Linked DNA regions of Homo sapiens: all the other regions are linked to region 2. Evidence: fine-mapped expression QTL. A gene starts in region 2. Each other region holds a variant in brackets. All regions are shown on one strand. Distances are between the middles of the regions. Region 1 has its middle 77 kb from the start of RNU6-1. Region 2 holds the start of CALML4 (calmodulin like 4). Region 3 overlaps PIAS1 (protein inhibitor of activated STAT 1). Region 4 overlaps FEM1B (fem-1 homolog B).

The links. PIP is the estimated chance that this variant, and not a neighbour inherited with it, causes the effect. A credible set is the group of variants that fine-mapping cannot tell apart.
Region 1: its variant is the best candidate, but not a certain one, in a credible set for the expression of CALML4 in monocytes (CEDAR, PIP 0.59).
Region 3: its variant is the best candidate, but not a certain one, in a credible set for the expression of CALML4 in cerebellar hemisphere (GTEx, PIP 0.52).
Region 4: its variant is the best candidate, but not a certain one, in a credible set for the expression of CALML4 in lung (TOPMed, PIP 0.51).

The regions. Positions count from the first base shown.
Region 1 is chr15:67,915,419-67,917,918 of GRCh38, forward strand. No RefSeq gene overlaps it. Among named protein-coding and RNA genes, the nearest start is that of RNU6-1, 77 kb to the left of the region's middle. The variant C/T (reference allele first, on the strand shown) is at 1,156.
Region 2 is chr15:68,203,938-68,206,700 of GRCh38, forward strand. CALML4 (calmodulin like 4) reads right to left here and starts at 1,395. Exons shown (of 5, transcript NM_033429.3): 1 at 1,308-1,395; 2 at 1,184-1,214. The coding sequence starts at 1,310. RefSeq lists an enhancer at 2,094-2,388.
Region 3 is chr15:68,096,211-68,098,938 of GRCh38, forward strand. All of the region lies in intron 2 of PIAS1 (protein inhibitor of activated STAT 1), which reads left to right. Among named protein-coding and RNA genes, the nearest start is that of PIAS1, 43 kb to the left of the region's middle. The variant G/A (reference allele first, on the strand shown) is at 1,274.
Region 4 is chr15:68,284,458-68,286,957 of GRCh38, forward strand. The region is part of intron 1 of FEM1B (fem-1 homolog B); the gene reads left to right. Among named protein-coding and RNA genes, the nearest start is that of FEM1B, 8.0 kb to the left of the region's middle. RefSeq lists an enhancer at 1,031-1,532. The variant G/GC (reference allele first, on the strand shown) is at 1,328.

The sequences.
Region 1 (2,500 bases), 290 kb before region 2:
AAAATTAAGTCACTTCAGCTAAAGACTACAGCCTAACAAAATCCTTAACAGACGCTTGTTAGTCCTGTTGCTGGGAAGTATTTGTCCAGCAGACCTGGAACAGTTTAAAAAAGGAGTGGGGGTTTGGTTAACATTAAAGAAACACAAAGATTTTTCATCTGGCTCTGGGGGAGACCAGAGCCACAGAGGGAACAAGAAAAGAAAGAGGGGATTGAACATTTTTGCAAACAAATGATAAAACTGCCTTTTAAAGAAGGAGGGGGGATCCCTTGTCCAAACAAGACTTCTGCCAGGGTAGGAAATCATTTCTGCAATTGTTTACAATGCTCAGGCAGCCGGTCCTAAGTCAACATGGCCTGGGAGCGTTGCCCTGGAGCCTCCTGCCTTTGCCAGCCGCCTGCCATCTCGAGCTCAGCTATTTCTGGGACTTAGCTCCCTCCCTTGAAAAACAAACCGTGGCCCTCACTGTCATACCCAATAAACCCCCCAGTTTGTGCAGCCTTAATCATGTTTTCCAGAAGAGTTCTCCAACTGACGGCCTGGATGCAATGTGTTGGGCTCAGGAGAGCCAGTATGTGTGGGGGAAGGGAAGCTCTCATTTGTGGATGCCAAGATGGAAATTTCCATTGCAGTACAAGATGGCTTCACCTGTGGCCAAGGAAACCTACTTCATCTCAAAGAGGAGAACTTGGCTAATGAACAGCCTGAAATTTATGTCCTTTCTTACAGTTTGTTCCATAAACCCAGAGCAAAGTTTGCTTTTACTAAAAAGCACCATAATTACTAGTCATAACCCTTCACATCTGGTTGTCACTTAGTGTAGAAGTCTTTTCACTTCTGTTATCTCATTTGTTCTCCACCATGAGAAAGGCATTATTAGTCCCATTTATTTACCTTTTTTGAAAAAAAAAAAAAAAAAAAAAAAAGATGAGATCTCACTATGTTTCTCAGGCTGGTCTTGAGCTCCTAAGCTCAAGTGATCCTCCTGTCTTGGCCTCTCAAAGTGCTAGGATTACAGGTGTGGACCACTGTACCCAGTCAATCCCATTTATTTAATTAATCCATCTATTTGTCTCCTTATTTGGTGTTAATAATACAGTCATGTGGCTTGAAAATTTTAAATTCCAGTGAAAAGATGTCTTCTCTTCTACTCTT[C/T]CACAATTCTTCTGGTCTCTATCTGCCCACAGGTAACCACTACTGTTCATTTTTCTGTGTATCTCTCCAGAGATGCTTTATGTATATCTAAGCAACTTGGGGTGGTACAAGGAGAAAGAGTATTGCAGAGAGACAGAAAAGTCCCAGGCACTAGGCCTAGCTCTGTCTCCAGTTGGCTGTTTGACATTGTGCATGCTACTTTCCCTCTCTGAACCTCACTTACCTCACTTACGTCATCTGTGAAAATGAGAATAAAAGCTAACATTCATTAGGCTTATATGTGCCTGCCACTGTGATAAGTGTTTTTATATGTGTTAGTTGAATTAAGCTCGCTACAGTCCTATAAGGAGGCACTGTAAGTCCCATTTATCCATGACAAACTGAGGCACAGAGAAATTAAATATCTTGCCCAGGTCCTAGTTAATTAGAGGGAGAGCCTGGGTTTTATGAAGCTAGGTAGTCTAACAGTAGAGCTCATTCACCACTTAAACCCCTGCGCTATATACGGCCACTCATTTATGATACTGGCACTACCAAATGATGGCTTGAAACAGGAGGCTGCCCCAGAGTGGTTCCTCCCAATTTAGGTATCTAAAATCCTATGTCCAGTTCCCATAAAACCCTGGCCAGGCAGCTCTGAGTCACTCAGCCCCATTCAGATGGGATGGTGACAGCTGGCAAAGAGCAGCAGACAGCAGGGCAAGGCTCAGGCATGAACCCTGATGTCAGACCAGTGCTTCCCCCTGTGTCCCTCCAGGGGAATCAGGACAACTCCTTAATAAGAATTTCTTATTTTTTATCAGAGGTAGTAACGCACGTAATTTAAAAAGCCAACTCATATTCAGAGACAAAAGACAGCAGCCCAGAACAAACACTTTTAACTCCTTTGGTTAGTTCTGTATATATTTATCTCCCTTATTCTTGTCAACCTTAAATAATATTCAGAAAGTATGATTAAATATAGAGTTCATTTGAGCCCAAAGCTTGAGGATGGCCACCCAGGAACATGGATTCAAGTTGCCCTGAATATACATTCTAATTAGCAGCACCTACAAATGGGTTTTTAAAGGGAAAAAAAGAAGAGGCAGTTCCTAAGTTGTTTAACAAGAATTTACATTAAAGTAACATAAGCTATTAATTGGTTATACATTGTTCTTTGTATCACAAATTCTAGGAACATGAAGATAATGGGTGAGGCCAGCTAGTCAGGAACAAAATGCCTTTAAACAATTGCCCCCAGGGCATGGGCGGGATGCAGAGGTGGGGGTGAGGGATGAGAGTAGGGGCCTGACTGAAGTCCCAGGTCTCTCTGAGCCAAGTAAATTTTGCATACCTCTCATAGCTT
Region 2 (2,763 bases):
GGGTCAGTGAGCCTCAAAACCAGGCATGGGTGGGAGGATGCTGAGGCTGAAGGCTGGACTCCAGCCCTCAGTCCACCATTCATTATCACCGTTAGACCTGGACAAGAGGGCACTGCCCCGGGCCCTGTGTTTTAAAAGTCCCTGCTCCTGCCCTGGCCCTCCTCTTGGGATAAAGAGTTCCAGGGTTCTACGTGGAGGTGCCCACCTGGAGCTCACAATTCCTGCCCCTCTGGACCAAGCTCAGAATACCCAGAACTCTGGAACTCCTGCCCAGGTAACCCTAACCCCACTTGGCTGGGCTCTCAGGACCCTACCCTGGATCACAAGGGCCCAAGGTGCCTGTAATTTTATCTCCAGTGGTCAGCGAAGGACTCACTGAGAAGGCGATGTTTCAGCAAAGACCTGGAGGAATGGGATGCCTCGGGGGACTCTCAGGCCCATTGACGTCCACTGTTGGGACAGGTTTCAGGGTCACAACCTCAAGCAGCAGCTGGCTGTGCCTCCTGGGCCTCTCCTGCCAGGTGCAGGGGGGCTGCAGCCATGAGGCTCCCCTGGCTCAGGTCTGGGCCCCCAAGTTCTTTGTAACGCAACTCTTTGCTCTTGGCCTTCTGGAAATAGAACCCTGCACGGTGTGAAACTGAAGCCTGGTCGAGGGCTGGCAGAGTAGGGGACCCAGGGAATAAAGTGCTCACGCCCAAACCAGGCTTGATGCCAGGGCAAAGGGGGCTCAGTGGACCCTCCATTTTACAGATAGGGAGACTGAGGCGCAGAGAGTAGACGCATCCTGCCAGAGAGTGCAGACCTGGCCTCTGTTCTGTCTCAATTACAAAGCCCCTCCTCTTTCCCTGCTGCCAGCCATACCTTTAATGGTCTCTCTCTCCATCCCCAGTCCCCTCAGTCCCCAAATCCAACTGGTCAGGTTCTGGAGGGAAACCTAGTAAGTTCTGTCTTAGCGCCCTGGCTTGTAAGTCACACTGACAAGTATAAAGCCACATGTCTATTTTGGAGGCTTACCCCCAACCCCCACCCCGCCAACAGCAGCCTCCCCGCAGCTCTTGGCCCTGGGTGGGCCCAGCTCTCCCACAGCCACCTTCCTTCCCACCAAGAAAACATGAGCAGAGCAAATTGCCTAATGAGACCCATATTTTGCTGAGTTGCTAATCAAAGAACAAACCCAACCTACCATTAATTTGGTCTTGGGAAAGAAACTTGGCCTGCAGCAGAGAAAGGAAAACAGTCAGGGGAGGGCTCCACCTGAGGTTCACGCCCCCAGCCCTGGCCAGGCCGACACAGACCCTCACACTCACCATTCTGGGGCCTCGGCTGCTACCCGTGGGCTTGCTGCTCCCAGAACCGCGTTCAGTTCCCTTTCCTCCAGCCTCAAGTCTAAAGTCTGCCAAGCTGGGTGGAGGCCCGGGTAATAAATGCTCGGCTGCCATGGAGACTGGGCCCGACGCCACCAGGGTCAGATTCCAGCTTCCTGAGCACAGCTCATGACCCGCCACCTGGGCAGGTTGGATTTTTGAGGAAATGGGGCTGCAGAAGGCTCTCCCTGGGCTCAGAGTCTCTGCCTCCAGAAGCCGAAGCAAAGGGACAAATGCCAGTGTTTCTTCCCGGGAGCCCTGGACTCCAGGAAGGGGTCTTCTCTCTCTCTCCTGGGACTCGGCGGGGATGCCATCAGGCCCCTACTAGAGTTGGACACTTTACACCCCGGGTCGTATTGAAGGCTCCTCACACACCATCTTGTAGGAGGAAGGGAACCCTTCCAAGACGGCCTAACTCAGAGATGGGCACCGGGGCTCGCAGGCTTGGGGCTCGGTATTGCAGGGATACAAGCTTCGGTGCTCTCAGGCTGGGATTCAGTCCTCCCCGTCTGCTGACTTGCTGAGTGACTGGCGAATCATTCTACCTCAGTCTGTGCCTCAGTTTCCTCACCAGCTGAATTACAGGGCAGCTGGCAAAATCAAGTGGCCAGCGCACAGCCGGTTCCCATCCTGTGCCAGTTCAGTTCCCACCTTCTGAGGACTTTAAGGGTGGTGGAGGGGCCTGAGCCGGGTCTCCAGCCCCACCACAGGCTCCTCGGGGGCTTGGAGTGAGGCCTCTTAGTGCCGGTTACCCTGGCCAGGAAGGCTCCCCTTTTCTTCCTTCCCTTCCTCTCTCCACCCTCAGCCCCACCCCTTCCGCAGAAGCTGCTGACGCTCCCAAGTCTTCAGGAGTTCGTGCTGCTCCCCTCCCCCACATAGGAGGAAATGGGGGCAGGGTGTGAGGCCTCCCCAGCTTCTTCCCCTTGAGATCCCATTTCCCTGTTTGGGGCGTGAGGCTTTTGTCCACAGCTGAGTCTATGAGGCTCTACAAGTAGGTGTGGCTGCACAGGTGTGCCCTACACAAAGGCCCCCAGCCCAGGTGCGAGTGGTTGCTGGCCAGGGGCTGCACTGCCAATAGGAAGGGGGGCATTGTGCCACTTTGCACACAGGCGCATAGACGGGAGGCGCTGCCTGTGCCCCACTCTCCCCTCCCCGCTCCTTTCCTGACCGCCTCTGTGTGGAAAGTGTGCTTTTCTCCCAAATCACATCCCCAGAATCGCTTTACACCTGTTTCTAGACCCAGAGAATTTTAGCTGGGGACTCCGACTCCTCCCTGTCAGAGTTTGAGGCTCCCCCTCCCAAACCCCATGGCAGGGATAAGAGGAGGGAAGGCTGCCTCTGTGCAGAGGATGGAGAGAAGGACATCAAGGAAAGTCACTTGGGACTCTGGAAGCCTGAA
Region 3 (2,728 bases), 110 kb before region 2:
ACAGCCTTGTCAGAGATCATTTGGCTATGTATGTGTGAGGGTTTGTTTCTGGGCTCACTATTCTGTTCCATTGGTCTGTATGTCTTTATGTCAAGACCACACTGTTTTGATTACTGTAGCTTTGTAATACGTTTTGAAATAAGGAAGTGTGAGGCTTGCAGTTTTGTTCTTTTTCAAGATTGTTTTTGCTTTTGGGAGTCCCTTGAGATTTTATATCAACTTTAGGATTTTTTTTTTTTTTACTATTTTTGCAAAAGATACCATTGAGATTTTGATAAAGATTACATTAAATCTGTAGATTGCTTTGAGTATTATGGACATTTAAACAATATTGTTTTTGATTCATGAGCATTATCCTTTTTTTTATATTTTTAATTTCTTTCAGAAATGTTTTGTAGTTTTCAGTGTACATGTCTTTTGCCTCTTTGGTCAAGTTTATTCCTAAGTATTTTATCCTTCTTGATGCTACTGAAAATTGAATTGTTAAGTTCCTTTTCAGTGTGTTCATTGTTTGTGTATGGAAACAGGACTCATTTTTTGTGTGTCGATTTTGTATCCTGCAGTTTTCCTGTTTGTTTCTTAGTTCTAATATTTTTTTTCTTTTGCATGAAACTTTTAGAGTTTTCTACATACGTCATGTCATCTGTGAACAGAGATTAATTTTACTTCTTTTTAAATTTGAATGCCTTTCATTTTTTTGTGTGTGTGTAATTGCTCTGGCTAGTACTTCTAGTACTATGTTGAGTAGAAGTGGCAAGAATTGCCTTGTTCCTGATCTTAGAGGAAAAGCTTTCAGTCATTCACCATTGAATGTGATGTTAGTGGTGGGTTTTTCATATATGGTCTTCATTATGTTGAGATAGTTTCCTTCCATTCCTAGTTGAGTGTTTTTTATCATGAAATGTTGTTGAAACTTGTCAAATGTCTTTTCTACATCCATTCAGATGATCATGTAGTTTTTTTCATTCTGTTAATGTGGTGTATTATATTGAATTTCATACACTGAACCATCCTTGCATTCCAGGAATAAACCCCACTTGATCATTATGTAAAACCCTTTTCATATGCTATTGAATTTGAAGTGTAGATATTCTTTTCTTGTTCCTTAAGAAAAGCATCTTGTCTTTCACCATTAAGTATAATGTTAGCTGTGGATTCTTTCATAGATGCCCTTCCTGTTGAGTTTTTTAATTATAAAAGCATGTTGTAATTAATTAATTAATTTATTTATTTATTTTTGAGACGGAGTTTTACTCTTGTCACCCAGGCTGGA[G/A]TGCAATGGCATGATCTCAGTTCACTGCAACCTCTGCCTCCTCAGTTCAAGTGATTCTTCTGCCTCAGCCTCCCAAGTAGCTGGGACTACAGGCACGCACCACCACGCCCATCTAATTTTTGTATTTTTATTAAATGCGGGGTTTCCCCACATTGGCCAGGCTGGTGTCGAACTCCTGAGCTCAGGTGATCTACCTGCCTCGGCCTCCCAAAGTGCTGGGATTACAGGTGTGAGCCACCGTGCCCAGCCTGCATGTTGTAATTTATTAAATGCTTTTTCAACATCTGATGAGATGATTGTATAGTTTTTCCCATTATTCTATTAATATGGTGTCTAACACTGATTGCTTTTCATATATTAAACCAGTAGCTGTTGGATTTTGTCTGATTCCAGATGACCTATGCTACCTCCTAGAGGAGTAAATAACATTTTCCACTTCTGACATTTGTGGGGTTTTTTAATCAATTCTGAATTTTATTTTTGTTTACATGAGTATAGGGCTCTAATTTTATTTTTTTCCCAAAACTTCCTTTGAATATTATTCTAGATCTTACTCTGTTCCACTGGTCTAATTGTATACTTTTCTGCTAACATGGAATTATTGTATAGTTGACCCTTGAACAACAAGGGGATTGGGATGCCACCTTTGCAACACACACAGTCAAAAATTCACATGTAACTTTTGACTCCTCCAAAACTTTACTATAACCTATTGTTTACCAGAAGCCTTACCAATAACATAAACAGTTGATTAACACGTATTTTGTATATGTATGTATTGTGTACTGTATTCTTACAGCAAAGTAAGCTAGAGAAAAGAAACTGTTACTAAGAAAATCATAAGGAAAGAAAATATATTTACTATTAAGTGGATCATTATAAAGGTTTTCATACTTGTTATGTTTGCATTAAGTAGGCTAAAGGGGAGGAGTAATAGGAGGATTTTCATCTTGCTGTCTAAGAGGTGACAGAGGTGGAAGAAAATCTGTGTATAAATGGACCCACACAGTTAAAATCTGTGTTGTTCAAGGGTCAATTGTACTTAATTTTTTGATTGTTTTTAAATTTTTAAATAGATAATACATTGATGTACAAAACTCAAAAGTTACAAAAGGGTTTGCAATGAAAAGGAAGTCCCTCTTTCACCCTTATTTCAGTCACAGGTGTTGCTTTCAGTTCTTTTTATATTTTTACTGGGGTAGCTGCTGCACCTACAAACAAACATATTTGCCTCATTCTTTTTTAGCAGCTACTTAGTAGGCAATAGATTCGTTGGATTCTGTGTTATTAAATATTCCCCTGTTGGTCAACATTTGGGTAGTTTCTTGCTGTTGAAAACATTGCTGTAGAGAATATTCTGTGATATATATCACTATGCACTTGTCTAAATATAGCCAGTAGTTTTATAATTCCTAGAAATAGAAAGTGCATCTAAATATTTTTTGTAGATGTTGC
Region 4 (2,500 bases), 80 kb after region 2:
TAAACTATTTTTCTTTGAAGTCATTTGTGCCTATTTTTGTTTTTAATTATATCTGTTTTTTTAGTGGAGGTATATCATATCTAGTAAAGTACATGAATCTTGTGTACAATACTGTACAATGAATTTTTAATATGTTTACATCCATCTAGTCACTCTCTAGATCAATGTGTAGAACACTTTATCACTCTAAAAGTTTCCCTTGTGCCCCTTCTCAGTTTCCTCCCTTTCCTTGCCAGAGGTAATGATTATTTTGACTTCTGATAGGGTTTGGCTATGTCCCACCCAAATCTTATCTTGAATTCCCACGTGTTGTGGGAGGGACCTGGTGGGAGGCAACTGAATCATGGAAGCAGGTCTTTCCCGTGCTGTTCTCTTGATAGTAAGTGTCACGGGATCTGATGATTGTAAGGGGGAGATTCCCTGCACAAGCTCACTTTGCCTGCTGCCATCCATGTAAGATGTGACTTGCTGCTCCTTGCCTTCTGCCATGATTGTGAAGCCTCCCCACCCATGTGGAACTGTAAGTCCAGTAAACCTCTTTCTTTTGTAAGTTGCCCAGTTTCGGGTATGCCTTTATCAGCAGCGTGAAAATGGACTAATACAGCTTCTGTCACCACAGATTAGTTTTGCCTGTACTTGAACTTCCTATAAGCAGAATTATGTAGTATGTACTCTTTTTGTTTGGCTTTTTTCGCTTAACACAGTGTCTTTGAGATTCATCCATGTACTTGCATGTATCAGTAGTTTCTTTTTTTAATGATGTGTGGTATTCCGTTGCATAAATATACTACAGTTTATCCATTTCCTATTAATTAATATTTTGGTTGTTTCCAGTGTTTGACTGTTATGAATAAAACTGCAGTGAACATTTGTGTATGTTGTTTGGTGGACATTTGCATTTAGTTATCTGGTATATATCAAGGAGTGGAATTGCTGGGTCATCAGGTAGGTGTATGTTTAACTAACAGATATTGCCAAATAGTTTCCCCAAAGTTCAACAACCAAATTACATTCCTACTTGCAGTTTCCACCAGCAATGAGAATGTCAGTTGCCACATCTTGCTCAACACTTATTATTGCCCTGTCAGTCTTGTTAAATTTAGCTATTCTGCTGGGTGTGTATATTGGTAAACTGGTTTTAATTTGCATTTCCCTGTTAACTAATTATCTTGAGCATCTTTTCATATGCTTATGGGCCATTTGGATATCTTTTGTGAAGTATACTTGTTCAGTCTTTTTTTTTTTTTCTTAAATTGAGTAGAGACAGGATCTTGCTGTGTCGCGCAGGCTGGTCTTGAACTCTTAGGTTCAAACAGTCCTCTTCTTA[G/GC]CCCCCCCGCAGTGCTGGGATTACAGGTGTGAGCCACTGCACCTGGCCACTTAATCGCTTTGTTTATAATGTTTTTTGATGAATGGAAGTTCTGGTTTTAATGAAATCCAATAAATACTTTCTTTTTCTTTAACGGTTAATGCTTTTTTTTTTTTTTGGTATTCTGTTCCAGAAATTGTGATCAACACTAAATTCATTAAGAATAGTCTATGGCTTTTTTTTTATTTTGAGAAGCTTTTCACACTATAGGTCTATACTGTGTCTCTAATTTTTGTATGTACTGTGAGGTAGGAATCAAGGTTAATTATTTTCCATATAGATTATCTTGTTGCTCCATAACTATTTATTAAAAAGACCATGTTTTCTACCTGAATTTCACTGGAGCCTTTGTCAGAAATCAAGGGATTCTGTATGTGTGAATCTATTTCTGGAGTTTTTTTTTTTTTTGGTCTGTTGATAATATTATTCTGTCCCCGTGCCAGCACTTATTTTAATTACTGTAGTTTGTCCTCTAACTTTATTTTTCTTGAAGATTATCTTGGTTGTTTGCATTTCCATATTCTTTTTTGAATTGGCCTGTCAGTTCTTTCTTTCTCTCCTTCCCATTTTAGAGAGAGGTTCTCGCACTGTTGCTCAGGCAAGAGTGCAGTGGCCTGATCATGGCTCATTGTAGCCTCGACCTCTTGGACTCACACACACACACACACACACACATATACCACACAACCTGCTAGGATTTTCATTTGGTTTATATCGAATCTATAGATCATTTTGAGGGAGAATCGACATCTTAACATTATAGAGTCTTCTGGATCATGAACATGGAATATTTTCCCATTTATTTAGATTTACTTATCTCAGGAGTGTTTTGTAGTTTTCAGTGTAGAAGTCTTGTGCATTTTTCATTAGATTTATTACTATTTATTGGTATTTTCTGATGCTGTTGCAAGTGTTATTTTTTGACAATAAATAAATGTTTATTGAACTTTACATAATCATGACAATAAAAACATAACAAAAAAATAACAAAAGTGAATTTTAATTAAACTGAATTGTTTGCAAAACATATAGTTGGCATCACTGATGTAGTGTCTTATTTTCTTGATTCATTCTTTTTTTTGAGATGGAGTTTTGCTCTTGTCACCCAGGCTGGATTGCAATGGTGCAATCTCA